Linked DNA regions of Homo sapiens. The protein of the gene in region 1 purifies or fractionates together with the protein of each later gene. This does not show direct contact. Each region holds a gene or a part of one and is shown in the gene's direction. Other genes may lie near its edges.

Region 1 (4,782 bases):
ACGAGGACTCCCAAGATTGAACATCAGGGCTGCCCCGGGCGGTGCAAGAGCAAGTTGCCCACCCTCTGTTCCTGTCTCCATTGCCTCTGGGATGAAGCTAAGGGCTCAGGAAGACCCTCTCTGGCGACACAGGCTTGGTGCATGGACCCAGTCACAGGGTTCCTCCCTCTGCAGGACAGTCCATGGGGTCACACAGTCACAACAGGCAGGGCGGGGCAGATCCAGACCCTCTCACCATTGGCTCTGAGACCAGCTTTGGAAGCCATAGTCACTGAGCACCAACATGAGAGAGGGAACTCTGGGGCTGTGCCGCCATGCACCTTTGGGGCTGTGACCTGCCCTCTCTGTGCCTCCGTCCCCTCGCCCCTAACGTGGGTATGAGGGTGCCCATGGAGGAGGGGTCGGGAGGGTTAAAAGGTGGGCACCTCTGAGCCCACCGAGCACAGCAGCCCTGTGATAGTCAGTGCAGAGGGGCCTGGTGGCTCTGGTGACAGCAGGGTGACGTTCTTCGTGGTGTCACCACTTCCCCAGTACCATAGAGTACCTCTGTGCCCTTCTGAGGGAGGGGTCAGTGGGGGCGGTGGGGTGCACCTCTCCCCCGGGGCCATGCTTCTGCCCCCACATTCAACCCCGACTCCACTGCCTCATCCAGACTTCCGTGGAGTGACGCTCCCGGCTCTCAGCGCTGTGTGGTGGCTCTCAGTGGGGACGCCTGCAGCCTTCTCTGGCCCCTGCCCTGAGTCCCATCCCCTCCACTCCTTCCTTCAACCCACTATGTGCGGCTGAGGTCACAGGGGAGCCAGAGGGGCTTGGCAGGGGTCTCCAGAGGCCCTGGACAAACACTGCCTGCATCTGAGTGATTCAGTGACCCAGCACAGTGGCCCCAGCCGGTGGCTTCGCCCCTCCCCCTGCCCAGCCTCCTCCCCCGTCGCTGCACTGCCCACCTGCTCCTCGCAGTACACCCCTGCAGCCCCTCTGAGCAGCCCCTGCTCCTGACAGTTGCCGTGGCATTGCCTGGCCAAACCAAGGTCCCGGTGGGGGCCCACTGTGTTTGCCACCCACGCCTCCTAGTGTGTGTCTTGGGCACCTGCTTCCCACTGCCCATGGGGATGGCTGGAGACCTTCTCCACGCCCAGACGCCCTGCCCACCTCACTCCACCCTCCACCTCAGAGGAAGGCTGGCCCCGACAGGACTCCTGCAGGTTCCTGGTGCCGCGGGCCTTGCTTACCCAGCAGATGGTGGCCTTGGGCCTCTTCCCTCTCCCCTTCCCAGTTAGTGATTTTTTGCCTCTCTCCTGCTTTCTGTCTCTCTCTGTCTCTCTCTCTCTCTCTCTCTCTCTCTCTCTCTCTCTCTCTCTCTCTCATTACTGGCTCCTTCCCAGCGCCTTGAAACAGGTTCAAGTCTCTCCCGTCATCAAAAAATAATAACCCTCAGATCACCAGCCCCAGCTGGCTGCCACCTCCCCTGCTTCACAGCCCCATTCCTGAAAGCCTTGTCCCCACGGCATCCTCGGTCCCGCAGCCTCACCAGGGGCTCCCCGACACTCACGTCCCACCAGGCTGAGATCAGGTCGTCTCCACATCCCCTGCAGCCAGCACTGGCCGGCCGAAGGGAGGAGGGGTCAGCCCCGAGCACCGACCACCCCATCCTGTCCCTGGCCCATGGGTGTCTTAACCGCCCATGCACACACAAGGTCCTGCTGGACTGAGGAGACAGTGTGTGTTGGAGAGGCGCTAGCTTCCCTACACCACGCGGGGGCTGGAACTTGCCAGCCCAGCCCATGCCTGTCTGCTGTGCCATGCTCCAGAAATGGCCTGACAGCCTGCGCAACTAGGGCTGCCCCGGGAAGGTCGGAACCAGGAACACCCTGCCAGACAGATGGGACATCCTGGGAGAATGGGCAGAGTCTGGGGCTTCCCAGGGTCACTTTTGGCTCACCACCCCTTCCTGCCTCAGTGGCTTGGGGGCGCCATGCTCCTTGGAGTGAGACCCTGGTTCAAATCCCAGCTCTGCCGAGGGCTGGTTCCATAGCTCCAGGCGAGTCACGCATGCTCTGAGAACTCCACAATGTCAAACCCCGTTAGCAGGATTGTGGGGTTCTGTGGATCATGTGGGACCTGCCTGGCATGTGGAAGGGGCTTGGGGTGCAGCTGTGTCCCTGGCCCCAGCACTGCCACACCCCTCGGTACCTTGACCTCACTTTTGCGCTCTGGAGGGCAGAACCTCTGAGCCAGCTCTCAGGGATACCTTTTTTCCTCGATGGCCTTTTCTGGGAACTGCCCTCGCCTGCTATCTCTGAGCCCTGCCTGCCCTTCCCCCAAAGCCATCATAGACCCCTACCTCCTATCCAGATGGAGCCTGGCCATGGAATGCTTGGGGTGAGAGGGACCCATAGCGGGCTCCGGGCATTGTTAGGGGGCTAGGTGGTGTCTGCAGAGGCCCCACCTGTGGCAGGGTTTACATGCCGCCACCCCTGCCCTCCTCTTGGGTAGCTGGGGTCAGAAGGGCCTGAGGCCTCACTCTCTCTGCATCTTAGTTTCTTCACATCTAAAATGCTATTCATATGCCTGCCTGAGGGTGGTTGGGGCCTCCGTGCAGTAAGTGGAGAGAAGCCTTCAGCCAGAGGACCCCCATATGCTTAAACATCCAGACACCAAGGGCCACTCACAGACAGCAGCCGGCTTGTGTTTCGTCATCCCTTTTGGGTCAGGAACTGGGGACGCTGGACTCCAGATCTCCAGGAGGCCATCCCAGACTAGGCGGGAAGGAGGCCTCAGCCCTGAGCTGAAAACCTGAAATTCTAGAATAAACCCCAGGCCCCACTCCCAGCATGGGCAGCGGGGAGGGGAGTGTTCTGACATTTCTCAGCTGCTGTGGTTGGGATGGTGCGCCCACCCTGAGCATGTGGGGTCCTGTGGGCCCCTACTCCAGCCTGGAGGCAGCTGCAGGGGTCAGAGACCAGCCTGGAGCCCTCGGGCAGGTTACTCAGCCTCAGCTCTCATTGGTAACCCAGGTAAAATAACAGTAATCCCATCATAAGGTTGCTGTGGGCATGAGGCTTCCAGCCATGCCTGGCACATAGGAAGCTATTGTCGTTTGTTTCACTGGCTTCGCACTTGGGCAGAGGCCGCCGCCCTCTCTGCTGCCTTCTCTACCTCACCCCCCGCCCCCAGCACGGTGGCACTGTGGCTCTGGCGCCTGGTGACTTCTCCCTCCCCGGCCTCAGGTTTGCTTCACTCTTCCAAGGGCCTTCTTGGTGTGACTGTCCTGTCCTGGCCACGTCCACTCCAAGCAGCTGGTCCAGGTGTGGGGCAGCCCCCAAGCTCAGCAGAGGACAGTTTTGAGACTTAGAGGAGGACGGCATCAGATTTACATGAAGTCAGCCATCTCAAGGGATTACCACGTCACCGCCTCCTCTCACAGGTCTGAGAGCTGGTCCCCTGGAGGGTGCAGGTCTCATCCTAGGTAGAACAGTCCCAGCCTAGCTTCAAAGTGCTCCTGCTGCCAGAAAGGGTAGAAAACCATGCTGAATGCCTTCACTGTTGCCTGGAATGGGAGCCTCAGTTTCACCATCTGTAAAGTGAGATTAATGAAAGGGACCCACAGAGGGCTGTTAGAGCCAGTAGGCGGCCAGGCGCGGTGGCTCACGCCTGTAATCCCAGCACTTTGGGAGGCTGAGGTGGGCGGATCACGAGGTCAGGAGATCGAGACCATCCTGGCTAACACGGAGAAACCCCGTCTCTACTAAAAATACAAAAAATTAGCCTGGCGTGGTGGCGGGCACCTGTAGTCCCAGCTACTGGGGAGGCTGAGGCAGGAGAATGGCGTGAACCCGGGAGGCGGAGCTTGCAGTGAGCCAAGATTGTGCCACTGCTCTCTAGCCTGGGCAACAGAGCAAGACTCCATCTCAAAAGCAAAAGAAAAAAGAGCCAGTAGGCCAGGCGCTATGTCTTACACCTGTAATCCCAGCACTTTGGGAGGCCTAGGCAGGCAGATCACCTGAGGTCGGGAGTTCGAGACCAGCCTGGCCGACACAGTGAAACTCCGTCTCTACTAAAAATACAAAAATTAGCTGGGCATGGCAGCACATGCCTGTAATCCCAGCTACTCGGGAGGCTAAGGCAGGAGAATCACTTGAACACAGGAGGCAGCGGTTGCCGTGAGCGGAGATCACACCATTGCACTCCAGCCCCGGGGGGACAGAGTGAAATTCTGTCTCAAAAAAAAAAAAAAAAAAAAAAAGCAAGCCAGTGGGCAAGGACACACACCACGCCCAGCACACCAGAAGCATGCAGCAGATGCTGGCTGGTAGCCACAGCCATGGTAGTAACTGGCATCACTGGCCCAAGGGGGTCTCCCTACCCAATGTACCAGCCCAGAGGGTGCTAAATGACCCATGTTTGTGGGCATGTGTACCCCAGTGCTGAACCTCCTTCTGGTAGATTTTCAAGCACCATTTTGGAGAAGGGAGGCAGGGACCACAGGGGGCCAGCCAGCCTGTACAGGTTTTTTGTGTTTTTTTTGTTTGTTTGTTTGTTTGTTTTTTGAGGCAGGGTCTCACTCTTGCCCAGGCTGGAGTACAGGCAGTGGCGTCATCTCGGCTCACTGCAGCCTCAACCTCCCAGGCTGCAGCAATCCTCCCACCTCACCTTCCTGAGTAGCTGGGACTACAGGCACACACCACCAACCCTCACTATTTTTTGTAGAGACAGTTTCACCATGTTGCCCAGGCTGGTATCAAACTCCTGGACTCAGGCGATCCTCCCACCTTGGCCTCCCAG
Region 2 (5,445 bases), on another chromosome or scaffold:
ATTAAATGTGGGCTAGGAAAGGAAGAGACGAAGATTATTTCATTTCTGCCTTGGTAACTGAAAGAATAGGGTTATTGTGAACTGAAATGTAGGTGACTATAGAAAAGCAGATTTGAGGGGGAAATTTGAGGAACTCAGTTTTGGAGTGTTAAGTTTCAAGATGCCTTTTAGACATCCAAGTAGATATGTATAGTAAGCAGTTGGTTATGTCTTGAGGTCGGGGCAGAGATCTGGACTAGACATATAAATTTGAGAGCCATCGACAAAAAGAAGATATTTAAAGACATAAGATCGAAGGTCTTACTTAGAAAATAGTTCACATAAAAAGGAGGTTTGGAGACTGAGTCCAAGGCACCCCAATATTAAGAAGTTAGCAAATTAAGAGAAACCTACAAAGGAGTCTTAGAAGAAGTGGCCAAAGAGGTGGGGGAAAACCATGGTTTGTATTAGTGATCTTGAAAAAGTAGTATTAATGGAAAGAAGGGAATGAAAGCTTGATTGAAATGGGTTTAAGAAGATAGGAGGAGGACGTGTAATCTCTTGAGGAGTTTTTCTACGAAAGGAAATAGAAATGTTTTAAGTAGGGGGGAAGTGAGGTCAAGAGAAAGCTTTTTAAAAAATAACATCATATTTGTATGCTGATGACAGTAATCTAGAAGAGAAAATTTTGTGTAGGAGAGAGGCCTGGAAAGAAGTCCTTAAGAAGGCAGGACTCTAATATGCAAGAGAAGGGGTTGCCCTTAGATAGAAATGTGCACGTCCTTCTGCAGACTTTGGAGGGAAGACAGAATATATGTGTACAGATTATTGTATGCAGTAGATACAGTAGTGTAAGCTTGTGGAAGTTCTCATCTGATTGCTCCTATTTGCTCGTTGAAATAGGAACCTAGGTAATTAATTAGCTGAGAATGAAGATGGAGAAGAAAGTGTTTGAGGTTTGAGGAGAGAGAATTATGAAACAGCCATCCAAGAGAATGGGAGAATAAATGAGCTAAGGAAATATGATTGCCAGATGTGGTTCACTTTGAGGTTTGCTGAGGTCATGAATTTGAAGCAAGAATAGATATTTCAGTAGATATTACTAATGCTTTGTCCAGATCCTCTTGGATCCCTTTCTAGTGTTGCTGTACATGTCCTGCCTTTGTTGGTTTTTGCTTCCAATAAACAGCATCTATGCCTCTTTTTTTGGTAAACTGCCCTCAGGCTATTGGAGCACCCTTTGCTCTTACTGTTGTAGTACCTGAGGTGGACCTTAACCAATAGTGATTCAGAAGTATGAAATTTTCATTATCCTTGCTTCAGAGACATGTTTTGAACTTTGACACGGCAGAGTTCCCCCATTACCTTTACCCCCACCTACACACTGGTGAGATCAGGCTGAAGCTACCCTCTAAGGGACTTTGTCTTAGATCACACCTTTGCTTAGCTTTCTCCCCTTTCTTGACCTGCTTCCCCAAATTTCTTATTAGTTCCCCAAACATTTCCTTAATAAGTCACTTGTATATAATTTTTTTTCTCATGATCTGTTTATTGGGAACCTAACCTAAAACAGTAATTATGACTGTATGTGTCTTTCTTCAGCTATGGCCAGTTATATCAGTGTAAGCAAAAAAAAAATGGATTTAACATGGATGGGAGTTTTGCCAAGCAAACACCATGAAGTGAGGAAAGGGCAAGTGAAGTATACTGAAGGTGTATTCAAGGTAGTGGTTATATGATTTGCTATCAAATTTAACCTAGTTAAGGAAAGATTTATTAGTCTGTTCTCATATTGCTAATAAAGACATACCCGAGACTGGGTAATTTATAAAGGAAAGAGGTTTAATGGACTCACAGTTCCACATGGCTGGGGAGTCCTCACAATCATGGCAGAAGACAAAGGAAAAGCAAAGGGATGTCTTACATGAAGTCAGGCAAGAGAGAATGTGTACAGGGGAACTCTCCATTATAAAACCATCAGATCTCATGAGACTTATTCACCATCATGAGAACAGCACAGGAAAGACCCACTGCCATTATTCAATTACCTCCTACCAGGTCTCACCCATGATACATGGGAATTGGGAATTATGGGAGCTACAATTCAAGATAAGATTTGGGTGGGGACACAGCCAAACCATATCATTCCACCCCTGACCCTTCCCAAACGTCATGTCCTCATATTTTAAAATGAATCATGCCTTCTGACAGTCCCCCAAAGTCTTATTTCAGCATTAACTCAAAAGTCCACCGTCCAAAGTCTCATCTGAGACAAGGTAAGTCCCTTCTGCCTATGAGCCTGTAAAATCAAAAGCAAGCTAGTTACTTCCTAGATACAATGGGGGTACAGGCATTAGGTAAATATACCTGTTCCAAATGAGAGAAATTGTCCAAAATAAAAGGGGCTACAGGCCCCATGCAAGTCCAAAATCCAGTGGGACAGTCTTAAAGTTCTAAAATGATATCCTTTGACTCCATGTTCACATCCAGGTCACAGTGATGCAAGAGGTGGGCTCCCACAGTCTTGGGCAAAGGATATGGTCGGGGGATATGAGGTGAATGGCAGTATGATCAATGGATGGTAGGTCAAGTATTGATTGAAGGATTGTTGGAATTGAGGCACTAGCAGGAGTGAGTGGAAAGGTAGGAGGTTAGAGGTAGAAATGTTTAGAAACTAGGATTATTCAGTGCTTTTACTGTTGATATTGCTAAAGTGTAGGGTGTAACTCCTAGAATTACTGGCTGAGATAGTGTCAAGGAAAATATCACTGGTGGAGAAAATTCAAGGAACTGATGGGCCTAAATGTTAAAAGGGACATCTGTGTAGATTTTGAAATCAGTAATTAAGACAGGAGTAGTGTTAATGAGAGTAATAGTGAATTATGCCAAGATCCTTAAGAAATGAGGAGAAATGATCTGAGAGTTAGTAGGTGACTGCAAGAAAAAGGGGTAGAGGGTGGCAGAGTCTCATGGCCTGAGATTCAAAGCTGAGGGAAGAATTTACACAGGAGGGAGAGCAAAGAGTCTGGAAGTAGCAATGAGTTTCAGGAAGGATACAGACTCCATCCAGGCTTACTAGAAGACTGATGTGGGAAAAACATCTACCACTTAAGAAGCCTACAAAGGAAACAGGATCCTCATGGAATATTCAGGTTTTAGTTAGAGCAAGGAGGTGAAGGGTCTATTCAGAGAAGATATTGAAGCTGTATGGAATTGTGAAAGACTGTGAGTTCCAGGGGCACAGTGGAAGGATATCAGGAGTTGAGGGGGTGGAGAAGATGTGGGAGAAAATAGGGAATGTGCAGAGCCTTATGGGAATTACAATGCAGTAAACAAGTATAAAAGGGGAATTTGGGACTTCTGGTATTGATGATATAAAGAGGGATAAAGAACACAATGAAACCAGTTCCGGTGGTCTCAAGGTAGTAGTGCTGTCAGTGATAGGAAATGGGAAGTTGTAGGTATGTATTGGGGCTGGGGAGGGACAGTCTTACACTAAGTTAAGTAGTCTGGACTCACTGTTTTTCTTATTTTTTTAGTGATGCCAACTTTAAAAGCCTTTGTCCTCTATCATGAATTGTACTTTCTACCTATTTATCATGTGGATAAAGTGCAACTGTATTTCCTTACCCTGTGTATATTCAGATATTCAAAATGTCTAATAATATATGAAATAGCAGCCCAAGTATGATTTTTTAAAAAAACTGTCACTAAACTGACTTCCTACAAATCAGAGTAGGATTTCATGACTGTGTGTTCATGTTCAAACTTCATGTTGAGTTTTGGTTGCCTTATTCTGTTTCTGTAGTCATGGTTCCAGAAGACACACCTCTAGAGGATGGGCAACCACTTCTAGGGAAGTCCCTAGCAAAGCACCTAGCATGGTGCTAGCTCTGTTACACTGTGATAACGGCAGGGTTTTTACCCTCTCCAGCTCTTTTGGCTGATGTTAAATTCTTCCTTCTCAGTAATGAGATTCTTGACCAGTCATTGATGACTCCATTGCACTTGTCAGGAGTCTTGTGTTTGACTTCATCTTTGATTCTGCTTTGCCGTCTCTCATTTTTCACTGTGGCCTATTGAATACATAGGATCTGAGCAACTTCTTACAAGAAACTCTGTCTCTTTGTTTCTCGTTTTCCAGCTTTGTACTTCTATGCCTCTTGGACCAAATACTCAGTGTTTCCATGGGCAAACACTGGGTCATTTGTCTTTTAATCTTCTTTTTTCCTGATCTCTTATCAACAGCAAACACATTTGAGATGCTGTTGGCATCAATATAAAAAGTTATTTAAATTTGTGGAAATCCAAAGGGTTTAGGAGGAATGCCCGTGAGTTCAAATTTGCCGGGCTGGTTGTTATCCTTCATCATTGCTCACTCAATTTTGTAAACCTTAATGAGCAAACCTGAAGGGGGCCAGCCCCTCCACACCTGTGGGTATTTCTAGTCAGTCTGGACAAGAGACTGAGAAAAGAAATAAGACACAGAGACAAAGTATATAGAAAGAAAAGTGGGCCCAGGGGACCGGCGCTCAGCATACGGAGGACCTTCACCAGCACCAGTCTCTGAGTTCCCTCAGTATTTATTAATTACTGTTTTCACTGTCTCAGCAAGAGCAATGTGGCAGGACAGCAGGGTGATAGTGGGGAGAAGGTCAGCAAGAAAACATGTGAGCAAAGGAATCTGTGTCACAAATAAGTTCAAGGGAAGGTACTATGCCTAGATGTGCACGTAGGCCAGATTTATGCTTTTCTCCACCCAAACATCTCAGTAGAGTAAAGAGTAACAGAGCAGCATTGCTGCCAACATGTCTCACCTCCCACCACAGGGTGGCTTTTCTCCTATCCCAGAATTAAACAAATGTACAATTGGGTTTTATACCGAGACATTCAGTTCCCAGGGGCAGGCAGGAGACAGTGGCCTTCCTGTATCTCCACTGCAAGAGGCTTTCCTCTTTTACTAATCCTCCTCAGCACAGACCCCCTACGGGTGTCGGGCTGGGGGACGGTCAGGTCTTTCCCATCTCACGGGGCCATATTTCAGACTATCACATGGGGAGAAACCTTGGACAATACCTGGCTTTCCAGGGCAGAGGTCCCTGCGGCTTTCCGCAGTGCATTGTGCCCCTGGTTTATCGAGACTGGAGAATGGTGATGACTTTTACCAAGCATACTGCCTGCCTGTAAACATTTTGTTAACAAGGCACATCTTGCACAGCCCTAGATCCCTTAAACCTTGATTCCATACAACACATGTTTCTGTGAGCTCAAGATTGGGGCAAAGTTACAGATTAACAGCATCTCAAGGCAAAGCAATTGTTCAGGGTACAGGTCAAAATGGAGTTTCTTTTGTCTTCCCTTTCTACATAGACACAGTAACAGTCTGATCTCTCTTTTCCCTACACAAACCAAACTGGTTGTCAGAGTAGATAGTTAGTGAAGGTCTGAGTCTGTTCAGTGGTTTTA

Evidence for each region.
Region 2: the proteins of RAI1 (region 1) and ACAD11 purify together in Homo sapiens (affinity purification with mass spectrometry, with the first as the bait; one large-scale study listed by BioGRID). This does not show direct contact.

The regions. Positions count from the first base shown.
Region 1 is NC_000017.11:17,798,866-17,803,647, forward strand, and holds part of RAI1 (retinoic acid-induced protein 1), read left to right. Parts: intron 1-4,782. UniProt on the Homo sapiens protein: Transcriptional regulator of the circadian clock components: CLOCK, BMAL1, BMAL2, PER1/3, CRY1/2, NR1D1/2 and RORA/C. Positively regulates the transcriptional activity of CLOCK a core component of the circadian clock.
Region 2 is NC_000003.12:132,648,735-132,654,179, reverse strand, and holds part of ACAD11 (acyl-CoA dehydrogenase family member 11), read left to right. Parts: intron 1-5,445. UniProt on the Homo sapiens protein: Acyl-CoA dehydrogenase, that exhibits maximal activity towards saturated C22-CoA.